2 separate regions of the Homo sapiens genome follow, and region 2 is linked to region 1. Evidence: fine-mapped expression QTL. A gene starts in region 1. The other region holds a variant in brackets. All regions are shown on one strand. Distances are between the middles of the regions.

Region 1 (14,085 bases):
AGCTTGGCCTCCCAAAGTGCTGGGATTACAGGCATGAACCACAGCACCTGGCTTTTTTTTTTTTTTTTTTTTTTTGAGATAGTCTTGCTCTGTTGCCCAGGCTGGAGTGCAGTGGTGTGTTCTTGGCTCACTGCAACCTCCGCCTCCTAGGTTCAAGTGATTCTTGTGCCTTAGCCTCCTGAGTAGCTGGGATTACAGCTGTGCACCACTATGCCTGGCTAATTTTTGTATTTTTAGTAGAGACAGGGTTTTGCCACATTGGCCAGGCTGGTCTTGAACTCTTGGCCTCAAGTGATCCACCTGCTTCAACCTTCCAAAGTGCTAGGATTATGGGCATGAGCCACTGTGCCCGGTACCAATTCTCTATCATCCTATGGTCTTCCCTCACACAGCCTCATCTTCCTCTGCTCTTGGAACCCAAAAGGGGCTGCCTGACACAGACCCTAACACAGTATGCCTTTTGGCCTTGAAGTCCATCTCTGCAAACAAAACAGTAAGATCTGAAAGGAGGAAAGGGTGGTCTGGCCATACTAAGAATAGGTTAGAGAGCCTTCCCCCAAATTCTACCTAACTCACAGTGGTTTAGAGCTATATAAATATGAGGTTTCTTTCTTTTCTTTTTTTTTTTTTGAGACAGAGTCTCACTCTATCACCCAAGCTGGAGGACAATGGCGCAATCACCACTTACTGCAGCCTCAACCTCCTGGACTCAAGTGAATCCTCCCTTCACAGGCACACACCATTTTGCCTGGCTACATATAGGGTCTGGCTATGGTGCTCAAGCTGGTCTCAAACTCCTGGCCTCTAGCAGTTATCCTGCCTCAGCTTCCCAAGGTGCTAGGATTACAGGTGTGAGCCACTGTGTCTGGCCAATAATGAGTTTTCTTTTTTTTTTTTTGAGACGGAGTCTTGCTCTGTTGCCCAGGCTGGAGTGCAGTGGTGCGATCTCGGCTCACTGCAAGCTCCGCCTCCCAGGTTCACGCCATTCTCTTGCCTCAGCCTCCCGAGCAGCTGGGACTACAGGCACCCGCCACCTCACCCGGCTAATTTTTTGCGTTTTTAGTAGAGAGGGGGTTTCACCGTGTTAGCCAGGATGGTCTCAATCTGCTGACCTTGTGATCCGCCCACCTCGGCCTCCCAAAGTGCTGGGATTACAGGCGTGAGCCACTGCGCCCGGCCCAAATAATGAGTTTTCTAATGCTGGAGGCATGAAGTGAGAAACTTGGTTCTATTCCAAAACAATCCTTCTTCTTTACCCTTATCTTCTGATCTCTCACAGAGAAAATATTGGTTAATTGCTTCTGGTTAAGGTATGGGAGGAGAAGCAGAAAAGAAATGGAGATAAGAAGGAAGAGAGGAAGGGAAAAAAAGGAAGGAAGGAAAGAAGGGAGGGAGGGAAGAAAGGAGGGAGGGAGAGAAGGCAGCAGGGAGGGAAGGAGGAAGGGAGGAAAGAAGGGAGGGAGGGAGGAAGGGACGGAGGAAGAGAGGAAGGGAGGGAAGGAGGATGGGAGGAGAGAAGAGAGGGAAAGAGGGAAGAAAGGGAAGAAAAACAGCATTCCAGGACCCGCTGGAAAAGTAAAAGGAATAAAGGTGAGGAAGAAAGGGGGAAAAAGAAAAGGACGTGTGCATTTTATTTATTGTCTTGCTGGTTTACTTATTTATTGTAGAGACTGTTCCAAAAAGTATTTAAGGTAAGAAGCACAGGGGTGAATTCTGGCACAACCTAAGGAAGGGGAGGGATGGGATCAACATTTGCTGAAATCCTACTATCAGGCTCTGAGTCATGCATTTTGCCCAGTTTATTTTATTTGTACTACAACCCTTGAGTTCACAGTCTTATTACCCCATTTTACAGACTGCAAAACACTCAGGAAGATTAGGTAAAGTCCAAGCACACACACCTAAGAGCTGAAGTCAGCCCCTCACTTGCTGATCTCTCTCCTACGCTTACGCTCTGAGTTCCTCCCCACCCTTGCCCTCACCCCACATTGCCCCCTCCTATTTGGTGCCTGGCCAGCTCAGGCAGCTTGCGTCACAGTAAAGTAAAGCCAGAATGAGTTTTAGGTCTGAGTGAGATTGGAAAAGCCATTCCTCTGACCCTCCCCACCTGCTCCCGTCTCTCCAGGCATCCTACCTGCAAGAGGACACTGTGAGGGGCAAAAAATGTCCCTTCCAGAGCTGGCAGGAAGCCTGTGAGTGCTGCTGACATGCACCTTGTGCACACACATCCCCTTTCTCTGTCTCATACACACACATGCACACACACACAATCACACTTCACACCTGAGCTGGGGGAAGCCCCCAGAAGGCATGCAGGTACTCTCCCTGGAGTCAGAGGGGGAAAAGGGCTGCCAAGTCTACCAGTCCGCTTGCCAATAGATCAGAGCGCTAAACACCGCAGCACTGTGAGAACTTCAGAAATATGAGGCCTAGGAGATGGTGTCCTAAGAGGATGGGCCAGAAGACCTGGGTTCCCCTCCCTGCCAATTTTTCCTCTCTGAGCCTCGCTTTTCTCCTCTGGAGACTCACCGCTATGTCTTCCTGGCCTTTTCTGCCAGAACACACTACTTGGGGAGATCAGAGGGTTTCTGGACCCTGTAGTTCACAGAAGTTACTAAACTTAGCAGTGTGATACAATTGGCAGGGTTAACAATGTAAAGAAAGAAATGAAAGTGTTGGAAAGAAAGGAAAGTAGATCTTATAATAATGTTACCAGTGGTTAGACTTGTAGGAGAGTTGGGATTGTTTGGCAAGTGTCAACAAGGGAGGAGTAACTGTGGCTGGAATAGGAGGTGGCCAATTGGAGTAAAGCAACAAAGGTGTGTTGTAGGGCTTCAGCACAGAGGCCCTGTCTTCTTGGCAGGTGGCTAAGGCCTGTCTCATCTGTGGTTTGTGTCAAAATGAGCTGACCAAGACTTCATGATTAATGATTAATAGCCTTTACTTGGGAACAAAGCCAGGAGCTCAGGAAGTCCTGGCAGGCCCCTGCACATGCTTAGAGTGCACTGTAGGGACCTTGGGCAGCCATTTTTCTTGTCACCGCCTTATCTGTGCATGAACTCTGGTCAGACCATGGAACAGTAGCTCCAGGTTCTTCCTGTAATGGCCAATTCCTAACGTCTACTGGGGCAACTCTGCTCACTGATAGGGAACCCTGGGCAGGAAGGCCCACCAATTAGATCAATGTACACCAACAGTGGGCGAGTATCCCTTCTTTACATCTGCTCTTCCAGAAGGATCAACCTCCAGAATTCTGAGGCAAGAAATTATTGCTGAGAGGTAGAGACTCCCAATCTCAGCGAGGAAGCCAACACTGCTCAACAAGGGAAGGCATTCTGTTACTTATTAAACCCCTACTATGTAGCCTGTCCATACATATTATCTAAGCCTCCCAACAATCCTGGGGGTAGCTAAAATGATGCCCATGTGTCAGATCAAGAACAGAGGCTCAGGTATCTTGCACAAGGCAAAAGTTAGTAAAATGCCTGGCTGGAATTCCCACCTATGTCTGTCTAATGTAAGAAACTGTTGGCTGGGCATGGTGGCTCATGCCTGTAATCCTAGCACTTTGGGAGGCCGAGGTGGGTAGATCACTTGAGGTCAGGAGTTCGAGACCTGGCCAACATGGTGAAACCCTGTCTCTACAAAAATACAAAAATTAACCGGGTGTGAGCAAAGGTTGCAGTGAGCTGAGATTGCACCACTGCACTGCAGCCTAGGCGACAGAGTGAGTCTCAAAAACAAAACAAAACAAAACAAAACAAAAAACACTGTTCATTCCATTATACCACATTGCCTTTCTCATGGCCTGGATTATCTCTAATAGTCCCTTCAACTCCTACATTCTCTCCTCCTGTAAAGATCAGGAAATAACCATCTTTCATATTTATATAATGATACATAGTTCATAAAGCAGTTTCACAATATTTCAACTTTTTTTTTTTTTGAGACAGAGTCTCATTGTGTCACTCAGGCTGGAGTGCAGTGGCGCGATCTCGGCTCACCACAACCTTAGCCTCCTGGGTTCAAGCGATTCTCCTGCCCCAGCCTCCCAAGTTTAGTACCTTCTGTGAACACACTGCTAAGTTTAGTACCTTCTGTGAACTACAGGGTCCAGAAACCCTCTGATCTCCCCAAGTAGTGTGTTCTGGCAGAAGAGGCCAGGAAGACATAGCGGTGAGTCTCCAGAGGAGAAAAGCGAGGCTCAGAGAGGAATAATTGGCAGGGAGGGGAACCCAGGTCTTCTGGCCCATCCTCTTAGGACACCATCCCAAGTAGCTGGAAGTACAGGCACCCACCACCATGCCCATTTGTATTTTTAGTGGAGACGGGGTTTCACCATGTTGGCTAGACTGGTCTCAAACTCCTGACCTCAGGTGATTCGCCTGCCTCGGCCTCCCAAAGTGCTGAGATTACAGGTATGAGCCACTGCGCCCAGCCACATTATTTGATCTTTAGAACAATCTGTGAAATAGGGAGGGTTGATTTTAGTCCTATAATTGGTAGGTGCATTGGTACTTGAACATATCTTCTGATTCAAATAATGTTCTTTCTACTAAATCAAGATTCAACAAGGGAATCTTGTTTGCTTCTGGAACACTACAACCATGAGGCAGGAAAAGGTGATAGGAAAGGTCCACAAAAGCAAAATTCCGACAACCTAACAAGCAGAAAACTAACATAAACCAAATGGTTTTGGTTTGTTTACATTGTTGACAATAATTTTCATAATGGGTCTTTGATAGTACTCTAAGTCCATAAAGTGCCATTCCAATAACCAAAGAAATTTCAAACTATTTGCATCCCAATTCTTTAAAAACGAGCAATCTGTGTCTGGTGCACATACTAACTCCATTATCCATACATTTCCATCTACTACTGCTCTCCAAATTTTCTCTCTACTTCAGTTTGGTTCTATCCTCTGTGAAATACACCCCGACTTTAGTTTACAATAATCCTGTCAATAATTCCATGTGAGGCTGGGCACAGTAACTCACATCTGTAATCCCAGCACTTTGGGAGGCCAAAGCAGGATGATCATCTGAGGTCAGGAGTTCAAGACCAGTCTGGCCAACATAGTGAGACCCTGTCTCTATTAAGAATACAAAAATTAGCCAGGCATAGTGTCACATGCCTGTAATCCCAGCTACTCAGGAGGCTGAGTCAGGAGAATCGCTTGAACCTGGGAGGGAAAGCTGCAATGAGCCCAGATCGAGCCACTGCACTTCAGCCTAGGGAACAGGGCAAGACTCTGTTTAAAAAAAAAAAAAATTAGGCCGGGCGCGGCGGCAGGCGCCTGTAATCCCAGCTACTAGGGAGGCTGAGGCAAGAGAATCGCTTGAACCCGGGAGGCGGAGGTTGTAGTGAGCCAAGATCATGCCACTGCACTCCAGCCTGGGCGACAGAGTAAGACCTTGTCTCAAAAAAAATAAAAATAAAAAAAATAAATAAAAAGAATTGCATGTTTTTCACACCTCCTGTGCAGCACCTAAAAGCAGTAAAATAAGAACTCAGAGAAGGAATTCATGTTCCTTGAATTGAAGGAACCAGAAAGCTCAAGAATTGCCATATTAACTGGGCCTTAAAGGATAATTAATAAAGCAGTATAAAAATAGAAAAGGGAAATTTTTAAGCAAAGGAAACTGGGAAACCACGAAACCTACATGGGGATCCATAAGAGGTTTAGTTGACTAAGACAGCATGAGACTAGGGGTATTGGGAGATAATGCAGGACTGGTGGATTGGGACCACTTTGGAAACCTCAGAGCTTAAGGCATTTAAGTTGCAACAAAGATCATAGTAGGGACTTAATGATCATGGAACAGATAATCCAGAGCTGTACTCTTGGTATATACTCACTTGAACAAAGGGATGCAGGAAGAGGAATGGGTATGAGGCAGAAACACAAAGGTCTGTTTGGGACATACTTATTTTGAGATGATAATTAGGACATCTAGAGGAAGAGGTTTTAGAGTTGTAAGTACTGCCAGCCAGGCGCGATGGCTCACACCTGTAACACAAGCACTTTGAGAGGCTGAGGCAGGAGAATCACTTGAGCCTGGTAGGTAGAGGCGAGCCAAGATGGCGCTACTGCATTCCAGCCTGGGTGAGGGAAATGAAACACTGCCTTTAAAAAAAAAAAAAAAAAAAAAAAAAAAGGCCAGGCACGGTGGCTTACGCCTGTAATCCCAGCACTTTGGGAGGTTGAGGAGGGCGGATCATGAGGTCAGGAGATCGAGAGCATCCTAGCTAACACGATGAAACCCCGTCTCTACTAAAAATACAAAAATTAGCCGGGCGTGGTGGTGGGCACCTGTAGTCCCAGCTACTTGGGAGGTTGAGGCAGAATGGTGTGAACCCGGGAGGCAGAGCTTGCAGTGAGCCGAGATCGTGCCACTGCACTCCAGCCTGGGCGACAGAGCAAGACTCCGTCTCAATTAAAAAAAAAAAAAAAAAAAAAGTGACTCAGTAATGACTAACTACATACACAATGTTTCTAGAACAAAATAATGACTACATCTCTGGAGAGGGCAGAGCTCTGCAGTTACAGATCTGGGCATCATCCAGAGACAATAAAATCAAGTGCAAAGAGACACATTATCTTTCATGCAATAAATACTGCCAGAATTTTAGGTGTGAAAGGGCCTTTAGTTTAATCACAGATCTCTTCCTTCCTGTTTTTAATGTACTTGCTCCACATCATTAGATATTATGTTCACTGTTTCACATGAATAACAAGTTTCTACTGAATTGTAAATCCCTATAAACCGAGGTACTTTAAAATTCTTTTGGATGCCATTATACAGTAGTAGACTCATAACTGATACCCAGTTAACACTGAAAGATAAATGTGAATATCCAACTAAAAGAAGAGCCCATAACCTAAGGTAGATAAATGAGAATGGACTATTTCATAGATGGAGAGATTAAATGTCTGGCCCATAGTTCTTACCAATCAGCTGTAGGTTACAACTATGACTTAGGTTCCCCATACCCAGTCTACTTCTCTATGGCCACTGCTAGGTTTCTCAAGGAGCTTCTACCCATCATCTCCTAGTGTCTAAGGCCACACCTTTCAAGCAACACACCTTTCACACTCTATCAAGCCCCAAACACAAGGCACAGTGTGGGCAGGGCCATCTTTATTGAGGTTTTTAATTAAAATGCTTTGCAGAGGAGACCACAGCCTGCCAAGGGAGCAGCTGCCCAAATGTTTCCTGACCCGTGACCTAGAGATGAAGTAATTTGATTTATTCCCTATTTCCTTTAGTCTCAATGGCTAAGGGGTAATGGATGGAAATGGGGAGAATGACCGAGTAGAGGCAAGGACGAAGCTCATTCTTAAAGAAAAACCTCAAAGTTCAACTTCAAACAGCTGAAATTTGTTTCATAGCTGTTGGTCACCCAGTTCTAGCCAACCAGGAATAAATTATAGTTTTGCCACCTCAGCAGATGGCAAAAGGAGCTTTCCAGAACTTTGGCCTGGTCTGCACCAGGTACCAACATCACAGCTGCTAAAATCACCAGAAGGGATTTTGGAACCGCTGTACTAGTGTCCTTTCATTCGATGGGATGTCCAGGCTTCACCCCAAAGAGGCTTCATTTATGCTTCTTCTCCTGTGTGCTGGTGAACCAAGAGTCTAGGAGCTTCTTGCTGTAGTACAACTGCCAGGCATGCACTTGCACTGCCAACACCAACACCAGGTACATGATGGAAACGGCAGAAAAACCAAAGAGGAAACGGTAGGCCTTGCCATGGCGGTAGAGCTGCTGTGCAGCAGGGAACATCTCCATGCTGCCATAAATGAGTGGAGCGATGGAAAAGAGTCCCATGCTGATCATGGAGAGCACCAGGTAGCTAATGTTGTTGCGGGGAAAGGAGAGAAGGCCCAAGAGAGAGGGCAAAATGCTCAGCAAATACGGGTATTCCCACTGATAGGGCATGGCCACCTGATCATGTGACAAGAGCCTCAGGTGTCCCACGCTCATCTTAGCAACCAGCAGCAGCCATATGACCAGATGTACGTAGATCAGCTTCTTGATTTCATACTTGAGAGTCACACTGTGGGGCAGAGCAGAGGGAGAAGTATCTTTCAAATTTTTCTTACCACCAACTATATGCCAGACAACTGTACTGGACACTGGGATACAAATTTGAATAAAACAGCCTAGAAGCCGGACACAAAGAACAGAGGAGGAAAAAGTAATTAGAAAATGAAGTGAAAAAGTTCTAGTAAATATATGTTCCCAGATATATGGGATCACAGGAAGGAGGAATCAACTCTGCCTGGCATGGAATGTCAGAGATGGCTATCTAGAGGCAGGTGATATCTGAACTAGGCTCAGGAATGAGTGAAGATGGGCATCCCATGCAGGAGCATGCAGACAAAAAGGCCCAAGTATTTGTGTTCCAGGAAAGCAAGTGGTTATGTGTGGCAGGAACATATTGTTAGGGGGAGAGGGGTAGTGGGATATGAATCACAAAGACTATGAGAGTTAAAAGTAGAAGAGGCTGGGCTCACAACTCTAATCCAAGCACTTTGGTAGGCTGAAGCAGGAGGACTGCTTGAGCCCAGGAGTTCGAGACCAGCCTGGCAACAAAATGAGACCCCATCTCCATAAAAAAAAAAAACAACAACAATACTACTAATAAAAAGGCAGGGCTGGGCGCGGTGGCTCACGCCTGTAATCCCAGCACTTTGGGAGGCCGAGGCGGGCAGATCACGAGGTCAGGAGATCGAGACCATCCTGGCTGACACGGTGAAACCCTGTCTCTACTAAAAATACAAAAAAATTAGCAGCACGTGGTGGCGGGCGCCTGTAGTCCCAGCTACTCGGGAGGCTGAGGCTGAGAATGGCGTGAACCCGGGAGGCGGAGCTTACAAGTGAGCTGAGATCGCGCCACTGCACTCCAGCCTGGGCGACAGACCGTGACTCCGTCTCAAAAATAAATAAATAAATTAATAATAATAATAAAGGCAGAAGGGTAGCTCAGAGCTGTGTTTAGCAAGAGGACGCTGACTGCACCATAGGATTAAAGTCTGGCGGGAGAAGGTATTGGCAGAGAGGAAACGTACTCAGGCCGCCCATACTTCTCCAGCTAGATTTTTTCATCCAAAAGAAGTACATACTTATCTTATTCTTCTAATTCTCTCACGTCCCAAACGTATCCTCCTCATATCCCTAAAGGCAATGTTTCTACTCTGGGCTGGCATGAAAACACCTGCTTAAGTTGTGAGGGCCCTTTCAGCCGGGGCCTAGAGATGTGAAACAAATGAGAGTTCAAAGAGCTTGTCATTCTTTAAAACTCTGGAGAGAGAGATGTGAAGAACATTCTGGGAGAGATCAATGGATTTAAGGAAGTAAAAATTTTAAAATTTTTATTTAAAAATATTTATTGTAGAAAATGTGGAAAGGTTGGAAAAAAAAAACAGTCATCTCTAGACTTCAAGCTCCATGAAGGCAGGGAACAGTTTTTTTTTTCTTTAATAAAATTGTTTATTGAAGGTATAACATGTATACAAAGACCACGTCTGCTTTTGCTCACTATTATAACCTAGTGTCTAGCAGTGTATGATGTTTGGAAGCTCAGTATTTGTCGAACTAGTAATTGAATGTAGAAATACCCCTTACGTGGGAGTGTTTATAAAATTCATTTTAGGCAAGGCGTCCTTAGGAAAGGCTGCCTTTTACTGTCTATATCCCCCCAAACGGCCCAAAATATAACACCTACCATATATTACGTGGTAGGCCTTATGCTACTTTCTTTACACGAATTACTGATTAATCTTTCACCAAAACCTAAAAGGCAGATTATTCTCTCCCTCTACAGATGAGGAAGCTGAGGCTCAAATTAGAAATTCGGTTTCGAAGGTGATACAGCGGGGCCAGCATCGACGTGACTCGGGAGCCCACGCAGGGCGGGAGCCCACGCGGGGCTGGATCCCCTCAAGGCACCGGGCGGAACAAGGGGTGGAGCTCGCGGGGGCCACGGGGCTTTCCAGGATGGGGGACAGGCCCGAAGCCGTCACGGGAGGAGGGGACTTGGCAGGTGAGCGGGGGCTGGCTGGGGAGCAAGACCCTGAGGCCGGGCCGGCGTCGCTCCCCAAGCCCCGCAGGCTCCAGCGGGGGAGAAAGCCTCCGTGCTCCTCGCCTCACTTCATACCTCATCTGGTAGTGCATGGCGACGCGCTCCCGGTGCTGAAAGTCGCTGCCGTCGGTGCCGGCCGCTCGCGGGCCTGCTCGAGACGCCATTGTGCCTGCCCAGAACCCCCGAACCCCTCACGCGGACCTGGTACCGCAACGACACCGCCAAGCGGCCCACTGACCCTATTTGCGCCCCCGCAGCCGCGCGGCTCCGTGAAGAGAACTTCCGGCCCCTCTGTCTCTGGAGGACCGACTCTATGGTCACTCCTCTCCGCGCAGGCGCCCTCGTTCCCTCTCGCCCCCGCCCCGCCCAGCCCCGCCTCTTGTGGAGCGCGCAGGAAATTAATCCCCAGCCTCTTTTGCTGGCGCCCAGAGGCCGCTTGAACACTTTTACTTTCTTAAGCTGTAATATCAGTTAGGATACTTCTGTCCACACTTTACAGAGGGGGAAACTGATATATTCTATGACTTTCCCTGGAGCACACATCATTCACACAGCCTCACACCTTTAATCCCAGCACTTTGGGAGGCCGAGGTGGGTGGATCACTTGATGTCAGGAGTTCAAGACCAGCCTGGGCAACATGGTGAAATCCCGTCTCTACTAAAAATACAAAAATTAGCCAGGTGTGGTGGGTTCCTGTGACCCCAGCTACTTGGGTGGCTGAGGCAGGAGAATCGCTTGAACCAGGGAGGCAGAGGTTGCAGTAAGTCGAGATTGTGCCAATGCACTCCAGCCTGGGGGACAGAGTGCAGAGTGAGACTTTGTCTCAAAATAAGTTTCTCACATTTAATTATTGCAAAGAGAAACAGGGAATCTCTCAGTGAGGAAATCTGGCTTGTCTCCCTTAAACATATAGTCAGTTAATTTGATCAATAATGAGATAAACTGATATCTTGTGCCTCTTTTAATAGACTGAGGACACAGCATCACTTCTATGATGTTTCTGCCAAAAATACCTAACTGAATCTAATCATGAAGAAATGACATAAATCCAGACGGAGGGACAGTCTAGAAGAGAGCTGGACTGTACTCTTCAAAAATGTCAAGGCCATGAAAGAAAAATTATTTCCAAATAAACTTTATCTGTAGAGACAAAGTAGAATGACCATTGCCAGAAGCTCGAGGGGTGGACAGAGAATGGGGAGCTAGTGTTTAATGGGTACAGAGCTTCAGTTCGGGAAGATGAAAAAAGTTCTGGAGATGGATGGTGGTACTGATTGCACAACTATATGTGTGTGCTTAATGCCACGGAAACTGTACACTTAAAAATGATTAACATAGTAAGTTTTATGTTATGTGCATTTTACCACAACAAAATACTAAGCGAAACTTTAAAGAAAGAAGTTATATTATCCGAATAAAGAAAAAAAGAAAGAAAAAAGCATGTATAGTGAGCATCTTCCATGCACCAGGATGCTCTGCTATGACCTGGGGACGCAGAAATAAACATGGTCCATTTCCCCTGAGGGATCCCAGCCCAGTCGGGGGAAGAACTTGTACCCATGAAGCTAAGAAATTCAAGAAAACACAGGAGGCTGAGGGAGGAAAAATGAGGCCTCTCTCCCTGACCTGGAGGGTTAGGAAAGTCTCTCTGGAGTGGCAGCAATTGAGCTGAGGTCTGAAGCCTGAGTGGGAATTGGCTAAAGAGGTGGGGAGCGGAAGAGCTTTTCAGGCAGAGGGAACAGCATGTGTGAAGGCCCCAAATCCAGAGAGCACTTGGCTCTTCAAAGAACTGAGAAACTTAAGAGTGACTGGAGCATTTGGAGGGTTCAGTAAAGAGTTAAGTCTTTATCCCAGGGGGTTTGGGGAACCACTAAAAGGTTTAACCAGGAAAATGACACAGTTTTGCATTTTTAAAAGATAGGTCTAGGTGGGGGCACAGTGCCTCAAGCCTGTAATCTCAGCACTTTGGGAGGCCAAGGCAGGAGATCAGCCTGGGCAACATAGTGAGACTCCCGTCTCTACAAAAATAAAAAATAAAATAATATTAACTGGCATGGTGGTGCGTGCCTGTAGTCCAGGCTACTCGGGAGGATGAGGTGGGAGAATCATTTGAGACCAGGAGTTCAAGGTTACAGTGAGCCATGATTATGCCACTGCATTCCATTCTGGGCAACAGAGTAAGACACTGTCTGTAAATAAATAAATAAAGATAGATCTAGTTGCTGTGTAGAGAATGGCTTGCAGGGGCCAAGGGTGAAGCAGAGGAATCACTTGAAGGCTACTGCAGTAATTCAGGCAATCCTAGGGGTGGCTTGGGCTAGGAGGTGGCAATGGACAGAGAGGAACAGATTTGAGTTCCTTGGGATTTAACATCTGTAGGTGGGTAACAAGAGCACATATGACCAGCAAGGGGCTCACACTAGGAAGGGAGTCTGTGTGGCTGGGATCTGAGAAAGGCAAGCAAGAAATCAGCAACATTGGCCGGGCACGGCTCACACCTGTAATCCCAGCACTTTGGGAGGCCGAGGCAGTGGATCACTTGAGGTCAGGAGTTCAAGACTAGCCTGGTCAACATGGTGAAACCCTGTCTCTACCAAAAGAAATACAAACATTATCAGGGTGTGGTAGCGCATGCCTGTAGTCCCAGCTACTTGGGAAGCCGAGGCAGGAGAATCCCTTGAACCCGGGAGGCGAAGGTTGCAGTGACCTGAGATCACACCACTGCACTCCAGCCTGAGCAACAGAGTGAGACCCTGTCTCAAATTTTAAAAAAATAAGAAAAAAGGCTGGGTGCAGTGGCTCACGCCTGTAATCCCAACACTTTGGGAGGCTGAGGCGGGCAGATCACAAGGTCAGGAGATCGAGACCAGCCTGGCTAACACGGTGAAACCCCGTCTCTACTAAAAATACAAAAAATTAGCCAGGCGTGGTGGTACGTGCCTGTAGTCCCAGCTACTCGGGAGGCTGAGGCAGGAGAATCGCTTGAACCTGGGGGACGGAGGTTGCAGTGAGCAGAGATCATACTGTTGCACTCCAGCCTGGGCGACAGAGTGAGAGAAAAGAAATCAGCAACATTTATTGAGTACCTACTCTATGCCAGGCATATTCACACACGTGAACTCATTCTCTTTTTCCAATACCCTTGGAGATAATTACTTTTGTTATCATTATCTTACACAAGGGAAAATTAAGGCTCAGAAAGGGGAAGTGACTTGCCCAGGATCACGCAGCAATTGCACTATAAGAACTCAGACCAAAGTGGCCCTAGGGCTGCAGGATTTTTACTACCAGATCTGTTACTGTCCTGTTTAAGGGATGACGGTTCAGGACCCACTGAGGGATAACTAAGAGGGTTCGGGACCTCTGGGGAAATGGGCCAGGAATATTTGTCACCTCCCCCCAGGCTCTCTAGAATGTCTTTCTTTGCCCTGTGGAAATCCTGGTGACACTTTGGGACCCATCTTACTGCACCAAGGATCACCTGCTTCCACATTAGTTCTCATCGTTTTTGCTGTCTGTGAAGCCTGGTCTAGAACCATCTGTGATAGACTCATCCAAGATGCTTGTTAAAAACACAGATTTCTGGGCCCCACCCTTACCCAAATGAATCATTCCCCAAAGTTGGGCCTAAGAATATCTTTTTAATTTAAAATGTTGACTAGGTAATGCATTTACATGGTTCAAAAGCCAAACAATAAGCTGGCTGCGGCGGCATGTACCTGTAGTCCCAGCTACTCATGAGGCTGAGGTGGGAAGATTGCTTGAGTTCAGGAGTTTGAGGCCAGCCTGGGCAACATGATGAGACCCTGAGCATGGTGGCTCATGCCTATAATCCCAGCACTTTGGGAGGCTGAGGCAGGAGGATTGCTTGAGTCCAGGAACTCGAGATCAGCCTCGGCGACATAGCAAGAACCTATCTCTAAAAATAAAATTAGCCAGGCAGGATGGCATATGTCTGTAGTCTCAGCTACTCAGGAGGCTGAGATGGAGGATC
Region 2 (8,358 bases), 26 kb before region 1:
AGAAGGCATAGGACAGCAAGGGTCAAGGGAGGGCCAGCCACCCCAGGGAGCCACAGTCTCCACCTCAATGAAGGGTTTGAAGAATGGTGAGACCAGGAAGGCAGGGATCACCCCCATCATCATCTTCCCACTCCTCTTCTGGCACCCAGCTAGACTCTGCTCCTACCTGAATACAGAGGCAGGGAACCAGGTCTGTGTGGTTCAAGGTAATGATCTGCGGTCCAGTCTGTGGAACAAATAAAGGAAGGAGGTTGGAGAAGATAAGGAGGAAGAGGAGGAGGCCAAAGTCAAGGAAACCAGGAAGGCAGAAGTTCCCCCACCAATTTTCCCTTGCTTGGGGTGAGTCCTCTTCAAGGATCCTCTCTGATATGGCACTGCGTCCTTTGCACAGGCATCGGCCTACAGTGGGAATGGACTTGGGAAGGGGGAGGCCTCACCAGGTTTTTGTGCCACCGGGGTTTTGGGGGGCCCTGGACCTGATTCCAGTACAGGGAGAGGCCGAAGTGCTGCTCCTCAGAGACATTCAGAACCAGATGCACGTTGTCACCATCTGCTGACACGTTGAGCCAGGGCAGGGCTGGTGGGAGAGGCAAAGAGAGCGCAGCTTAGACTTCCTCACCTCTTCTGCATCCCCGACTGACCCTTTGGAGTTTCCTTCAAACCCCCTAGACTGGGAGGCTCTCGGAGGGCAGAGCGTGTGTCATCATTTCAGACCAGACTTTGCTCCTAGCAGCTGCCCAAAGCCAAGCCCGTGGAGACCCTAGTGTGTGGTCGGAGAAGAGCTATTCTCCCTGCTTCTCCCTCTGCAGAAAGATCTTGTAACCTCTTTAAAACAAGTCATTTTCCTCTGTTCAGAACTGTGACCTTTCTGACCTTACCTCTTGATACTTGTGTCCTTTTTTTTTTTTGAGAGGGAGTCTTGCTCTGTTGCCCAGGCTGGAGTGCATTGGCACGATAGCTCACTGCAACCTCCACCTCCTGGGTTCAAGCGATTCTCTTGCCTCAGCCACCCGAGTAGCTGGGATTACAGGCGTGTGTCACCACCCCCGGCTAGTTTTTGTATTTTTAGTAGAGATGGGATTTCGCTCATGTTGGCCAGGCTGGTCTTGAGCTCCTAACCTCAAGCAATCCTCCTGCCTCAGCTTCCCCAAAGTGCTGGGATTGCAGACGTGAGCCATCGCGCACAGCCTATGGCATTTGTGTCCTTAATAACTCTGCTGCAGAGTTATTAAGGACCTCCTTACTGTTTCTCTCTCTTTTTTTTTTCCTTTTTTTTTTTTTGAGATGGAGTCTGGCTCTGTCGCCCAGGCTGGAGTGCAGTGGTGTGATCTCGGCTCACTGCAAGCTCTGCCTCCTGGGGTTCAAGCCATTCTCCTGCCTCAGGCTCCCGAGTAGCTGGGACTACAGGCGCCTGCCACCATGCCCAGCTGATTTTTTTGTATTTTTTGTAGAGATGGGGTTTCACCGTGTTAGCCAGGATGGTCTCGATCTCCTGACCTCGTGATCCGCCAGCCTCGGCCTCCCAAAGTGCTGGGATTACAGGCGTGAGCCACCGCGCCCGGCCCCCTCCTTACTATTTCTTAAACACCCCTGACATACTCCCACCCCAGGCCCTTTTTGCTGGCTATTCTCTCTTCCCTCAAATATATGGCTCCTCCCTCACCTCTTTCAGGTCTCTGCTCACCAGAATGAGACCATCCCTGACCTCTACAACTCCCAACCTTCCCCAGCCCTTCCACAAATGTTCTCCTTAGTGCTAATCACTGTCTAACTTACTGCATTCTTCACATCTCCATGTGTTTGTTGTGTCCTTCCTCACCCCCACCCTGACCCTGACACCAGCTCCGTGGGGTCGGGTTTTTTGTCATCTTCATTTATTGATTTATTAATATTTCCAGTGTCCAGGGATTTGCCTGGTACACAGAAATTAATAAATATCTGTTGAATAAATGAATCAATGTCTACTTAATGAAGGAAGAAATGAAATCCATGATATACACATCTGTGTTTTCAAAACTCTGGTGTTGAATAGTCTTTAATGAGTTGCCAAAGAGGCAGGCCAACTTTAATTTTAAGAAGGCAAAAAGAAAATGAAGTTGAAAACATTTAGTAGTTCAGAAAACATCACAGTATGTGATGTATTCACAGTATTTATGTATTGATCTGGGTGCTAGTTATGCAAGTGTATACATATATAAAAACAAATTGGCCGGACGTGGCGGCTCATGCCTGTAATCCCAGCACTTTGGGAGGCCGAGGTGGGAGGATCACGAGGTCAGGAGTTCAAGACCAGCCTGGCCAGCATGGTGAAACTCCATGTCTACTAAAAATACAAAAATTAGCTGTGCGTGGTGGTGCACGTCTGTAATCCCAGCTGCTTGGGAGGCTGAGGCAGGAGAATCGCTTGAACCCAGAAGGCAGAGGTTGCAGTGAGCTGAGATCACACCACTGCAGTCCAGCCTAGGCGACAGAGCAAGATTCCGCCAAAAAAAAAAAAAAAAAAAAGAACTGGACATGGAAATCAGTACCCTTTGGCTGGGCGTGGTGGCTCACGCCTGTAATCCCAGCACTTTGGGAGGCTGAGGCAGGCGGATCACAAGGTCAGGAGATCAAGACCATCCTGGCTAACACGGTGAAACCCTGTCTCTACTAAAAAAAAAAAAAAATTAGCCAGGCGTGGTGGCGGGTGCCTGTAGTCCCAGCTACTCGGGAGGCTGAGGCAGGAGAATGGCGTGAACCTGGGAGGCGGAGCTTGCAGTGAGCCGAGATTGCACCACTGCACTCCAGCCTGAGCGACAGAGCGAGACTCTGTCTCAAAAAAAAAAAAAAAAAAGAAAATCAGTACCCTTTACATACTTTTATGTATGTATGTTATACACAATAAAAAAGAAAATACAAAACGAAAACAAAATCCAAATAGTACGTGGGAAAAAAGTTAGACCCTTGACTTTCTTAGCTTTTATTTCAAGTTTTTTGTTTTTGTTTTGTTTTGTTTTGTTTTTTGAGACGGAGTCTTGCTCTGTCACCCAGGCTGGTGTGCAATGGTGCAGTCTCAGCTTACTGTAGCCCCTGCCTCCCAGGCTCAAGTGATTCTCCTGCCTCAGCCTCCTGAGTAGCTGGGACCACAAATGCACACCACCATGTCCTGTTAATTTTTGTATTTTTGGTAGAGACGGGGATTTGCCATGTTGCCCAGGCTCGTCTTGAACTTTTGAGCTCAAGTGATCCTTCTACCTCGGCCTCCCAAAGTTCTGGGATTACAGGCATGAGCCACTGAGCCTGACCCAAGATTCATCTTTCTATTTCCAGTGCTTAGCACAGATACTGCAATTAATGTGTTATGAACAAATGAATGAATGAATGAATGAATGAATATGTTCTGTGAGCTTCTGAGATGTGGTAGCCCATATCTGAAGTGGACTCCAAGGGTTTCTTATACTCCAGACCCTGCCCCTCCCTACCCCCGGCCCACTGGCCCTAGCCCCTACCCCAGCAGCTCGGGATGCTGTTCCAGACTTCGAGCCCCCTGCAGTCTGAGGAGAGATCACAGAAGAGCCTCCAGTGGGGCTGGGGGCCAAGGAAAGAAGTGGGGGCAATTTGGCTCCCAGGGGGGCATTAGGAATGGCTCCCCATCCCCTACATACCACCCACATCTATCCAATGCTCAAAGAACCTTCCCCAGGGGCTGGAAAGCCATATCACCCAGAGAGAGAAGGTCCGAGGGACTGACTCTGGGGAGGATAGCAGCTCAGACCCCTGCCGGAGAGTGGATGGAGCTAGAAGAGGGTGAAATCAGGAGGGGGAATGGCCAGAGGGGACAGAGGCTAGGGGGCCAGGACTTGGGGGTCCACTTACCAGGCAGCTGCTGTGTGTGGTTGAGTTCCTTCTCGTACCTGGGCTGAGTATAGGACCAGATTCGTACCTCACTCCCTAGGGCAGCCTCGAAGCAGTCATATACCACAGAGCCCTGTGAGGAGAGGGGTGAGGAAGGCTGGCGGTGCAGGGCTCAGAATCCAGGCCAAGGGCTGTGGGATCATCTGCAGGGACCACTCTGCTCACTGCCCTCCTCCCCCAACTAATGACTGTATTTATACTGTATAGCCTGAAATCTACTATTCACCTTTCTTTCAAGGGGCCTCAATTCTAAAGCAAATGTCCTCAGTAAGAGTGTCACCAGGGCGGGAAAAG[GC/C]CCTAGACATTTAAATCCCTGCACCCACCCTGCTGTGCTAGATCACCTGGCCAAAGCTAAGGAGATGAGACACCCCAACACAATATGGCACACCCCTCCCCACAGAAGTGGTTCTCACACTCAACCCAGTGCCTCAGTGTTCCTTACAACTGCTTGTGACATGGACCAAGCAGATGTTCTCCCAGTCTACAATTCTCCAGATAGGATATTGGCTGGGGGCTGGAGGTTGGAGGGAAAGTCAAAGGGTTTGAGTGATTTGACCCCAGTGGAAATAGACCTTCCAGGTACATGTGGCCTCCTAAGGCAGGGAGAAGCCCCAACACCCTGCACCATGGTACTTACACCATGGTAAGTATACCATGGTATGTATGGTAGGACTCTTTCTTTGGTCCAAGAGTACAGAGAAGTGCATCCAGCCCACAGACCTCCCCTCTCCAAGCCTCATTTTATCTATCTGGAAAATGAGGATACTAATAATGCCTCATCAGGTAGTTTTGAGGATTACAAAAGAATTAAATTTATTGAAATTATTCAGTGCCAGGCATTACATCCAGTGTTTTACAGGTACCAACTTAATTTAATTCTCACAACAGTCATGTGAGGTGGGACTATTCTTTTTTTTTGAGACGGAATCTCGCTCTGTCGCCCAGGCTGGAGTGCAGTGGCGCGATCTCGGCTCACTGCAAGCTCCACCTCCCGGGTTCACGCCATTCTCCTGCCTCTGCCTCCCGAGTAGCTGGGTCTACAGGCGCCCACCACCATGCCTGGCTAATTTTTTGTATTTTTTTAGTGGAGGCAGGGTTTCACAGTGTTAGCCAGGATGGTCTCAATCTCCTGACTTCGTGATCTGCCCGCCTCAGCCTCCCAAAGTGCTGGGATTACAGGTGTGAACCACTGTGCCCGGCCAGAACTATTGTTTTTTTATGTGGCAAAAACAAAAACAAAAACAAAAACAAAAAAACTTTAAGAGATATTTCACAAGGAAGTTACACAAATAGCCAATAAGCATGTGAAAAAAGTGCTCAACTTCATCAGTCATTGGAAGATACAAATTAAAACCACAATGGCAAACCACTACATATGCAGAAAAATTATGACAATTACAACACTTATGCTTGTTTTGGCACCACATATACTACAACTGGAACAATACAGAAAAGATTAGCAAGGCCCGTGCCTGAGGATGACATGCAAATTCATGGAGGGTCCCATATATTTAAAATTCAAATATATTTAATTTAAAAATAAAATAAAATTACACCATCAAGTGTTGGCAAAGATGGGAAGCAACTAGGACTCCCATACACTGCTGGTAGGAGGGGAAAATAGTAGAAGCACCCTGAAAAACGCTTGGTGATTTCTCGCAGTCAAGCATATGAAGTAGAACTATTCTCATCCCCATTTTACAGACATAAAAGCTGAGGCATAACAGGCTGAAGGGACTTGCCCACAGCGCTGATCAGAATCAAAAGAATAGTCCCACCTCACATGGCTGTTGTGAGAATTAAATAAGTTGATACCTGTAAAACACTGGCTGTAATGCCTGGTACTGAAGGGTTTCAATAAATTTAATTCTTTTGTAATCCTCAAAGAGATAATGCATGTGAAAAAGTTTTATAGATTTTAGGTTTAGAAGGTGATTATTATTATTTTGCATACCACAGACTGACCAAACTGCACAAGGGCAGCAGGCACTTGCACCTCCAGCAGGACGCAGCGGGCAGTAGGGTAGGCCTGGAAGGAGAGCACGACTTGGGCCTGGAGAGAGGCTGTGGGCAACAGGGCAGGGGTCAGTCAGGCCCAGGAGCGGCAGGCCAGGCCTTGGCATGGGGCAGTTGGGCCAGCCAGGTTCTCCTCACCATTCCTAGGCTCCTCCACCCCTGAGTCAGCTGCTCCTCCAAACTTTTCCTCATCTTCAGGCTCTTCCCAGTGCCCTAGAAGGACCCAAGAGCAAGGCCCTGGGTGAGGCCCCCTGCTCTGGGCTGGCTGGCTTTGGCGTTGGCTTCCTTCTGGAAAGCCCAGTGCTGGGAAGCAGGGGCTGGGGAGACCACACTGGCCTGGGGGTCCTTCTGCTGGTGTCCTCCAGGAGAACACTGAGGATGCCTAGCACTGCTTGAGAGATCCCCTGGCCCTCATGCCCACCCCAGACACACTCACGTGTACACATGCACTGTCACAGGATGACTTGCTCACCATGCACGGCCAAGTGGACAGCCACACGCAGACAGAGGTCACAGTCGGTCTCCTTCTGGCACCTCAGCACCAGCTCTGTCTGCAGGTGCGTAGGCGCCAGCACGGGGCCCGGAGCAGGCACGATGTCCCCAGGCAGGCAGAGTATGTCACTGTCTGTGTGTGGAGGAGCGGGTGGGAGCTGAAGCTGTTCCAAGCCCAGAATTTGGTGGCACCTGACATACCCAGAGAGCCAAAGAACTTGGCTGTCCTAGGCTGAGGTGGGCATGGAGGGCATGGGCCTGGGACAGCTCTGCTCCCTTCGGCCAACCTGGGAAATTCTTTTTAAAAGTAGGGATACTTACCCCAGAGGCGGCAGGAGAGGCCCTGGGAAGGAAAGAAAGGAGAGTCAGAATTTGTGCCCCCACCATCTAGGCACTGTTCTCTGCCTAAGACCTCCACCTACCTTTTTCTGGGGCTCCGTATTCCCAGACCCTCCCAGAGAAAGACAGACCCAGCTCTTGCCCCTTCCCCGTTCTTCTCTTCTACCATCAGCACCAGACAGACCAGACAGGGCAGTTCTGGCAGTGGCAGCAGTGACAGGAGCCAGGCTAAGGCTTTGCTGAGCCAAAAACTGAACCCTGAGCCTTTCCTCGTCTCCCCAGGGTTCCAGACTCACCGGAGAGCAGTGGGTAGCGTCCTGAGGCCCCACAAGCCTCTCCAGAGAAAGGACCACTGGGCTTCGGCCCAGTGCCAAGGACAGCAAGAACCAGGGCACAGGCATCTTCTAGGTGCCAGGTGGCACCCAGGCCTGAGGCCCTGTGCTGCCCCCCCCCAAGGGGGGCAGACACCCCAGTCAGCCCGTGTCTGTGGGTGGCAGGGGCTGGAATCCCTCTTCAGCCTCCAGAGGGGGCGGAGGGGGCTGTGCTGGGTAGTTTGTGCACTCTCTGTCCTGGGAGTCCTGACTCTCCTCCTACTTCCAGCACGGAGTGCTTTCGTTTTGGCTCCCGGCAGGCTGCTGGCTGTTCCCGCCCCTCTCTGTCCCTCCCACCAACACCAGGCTTGGGAGCCAGCAGCCTTGGACTAGGGTGGTGGCCGCACCTCCTCCTTCTTTGGCTCTCCTCTCCCTCTGCTGACACCTGGCTGGGAGGGGCCCCTGAAGAAGACAGCGAATGCATCACGGCTGAGTAAGGGAGCTCTTACTCACCCCCGGAGCCCTAAGGAGGACACAGCCCTGGAGTCCTGGGCCCACTAAGTCTCCCCTTACTAGGCACACTCGGTCCCTTCAGACACTCTTTGGGCCTCGGTAACCCTTTGTGGGACAGGAGCTCTAAAAGCACGGACAAAAGGCACCAGAAAGTGGGCTTTTCACCACTGCCTGGCTCAAATGCGGTATGGGGAGTAGAAGGAACCCAGGACCCCAGAGCCTGGCAGACAGGGGTCCCATCTGTGCTGTTGCTGTGGGCCGGCTGTGTGATGATGGACACACCATCTGGCGAAGCCTCTGTTTTCCTCTCCTCTTGTAAGAATCACTGGGGGGGATCAAGGAGATTGCCCCATCCTCCTTTGCTTTTGGAGGCATTGCTTGTAAGAATGTGACGGATGCCATGCGGTATGGACACAGAGGATTTGGGCCAGCACACTGACACATACCCCACCAGGCAGGCTCCCCAGCCACACTAGAGAAGCACACTGTGTTTTCTTAGTTTGTCATGTTTGTCTTTATTCATCTTTCCGGATCTTGGTCCCCACCGCCAGCACCCACCCACCCCACCCCCAACCCCCACTGTCCTGACCACCTGGAGCCAAAAGCCTCTTTTCCTAGGTCCAGAGTCCTCTCTCCCTCTGGCCAGAGCCTCAGAGTGGGAAAGGGAATCCCTGGCCCCCAAGGAGGTTTTCTCTCAGCCGCCCCCTGCAATCCCCCACCGCCTCACCCTCCTTCAGAACTGACATGGCTCCTGCCTCCCTACCCCGGCCCCAACCTCTCCAGCCTGGACTGA

What was found. PIP is the estimated chance that this variant, and not a neighbour inherited with it, causes the effect.
Region 2: its variant is fine-mapped to the expression of JAGN1 in whole blood (INTERVAL, PIP 0.96).

Annotation. Positions count from the first base shown.
Region 1 is chr3:9,886,892-9,900,976 of GRCh38, reverse strand. JAGN1 (jagunal vesicle mediated transporter 1) reads right to left here and starts at 10,367. Exons shown (of 2, transcript NM_032492.4): 1 at 10,166-10,367; 2 at 6,628-8,062. The coding sequence starts at 10,254. The coding sequence ends at 7,600. RefSeq lists an enhancer at 2,778-3,072 and a silencer at 2,778-3,072.
Region 2 is chr3:9,916,100-9,924,457 of GRCh38, reverse strand. It overlaps IL17RC (interleukin 17 receptor C), which reads right to left and starts at 7,360. Exons shown (of 19, transcript NM_153460.4): 1 at 7,038-7,360; 2 at 6,724-6,745; 3 at 6,383-6,535; 4 at 6,049-6,123; 5 at 5,849-5,958; 6 at 3,856-3,967; 7 at 3,489-3,533; 8 at 438-577; 9 at 167-226. The coding sequence starts at 7,142. It overlaps IL17RE (interleukin 17 receptor E), which reads right to left. Exons shown (of 16, transcript NM_153480.2): 16 at 8,061-8,358. It also overlaps the pseudogene RNU6-882P. RefSeq lists enhancers at 7,449-7,638, 7,568-8,107. The variant GC/C (reference allele first, on the strand shown) is at 4,189.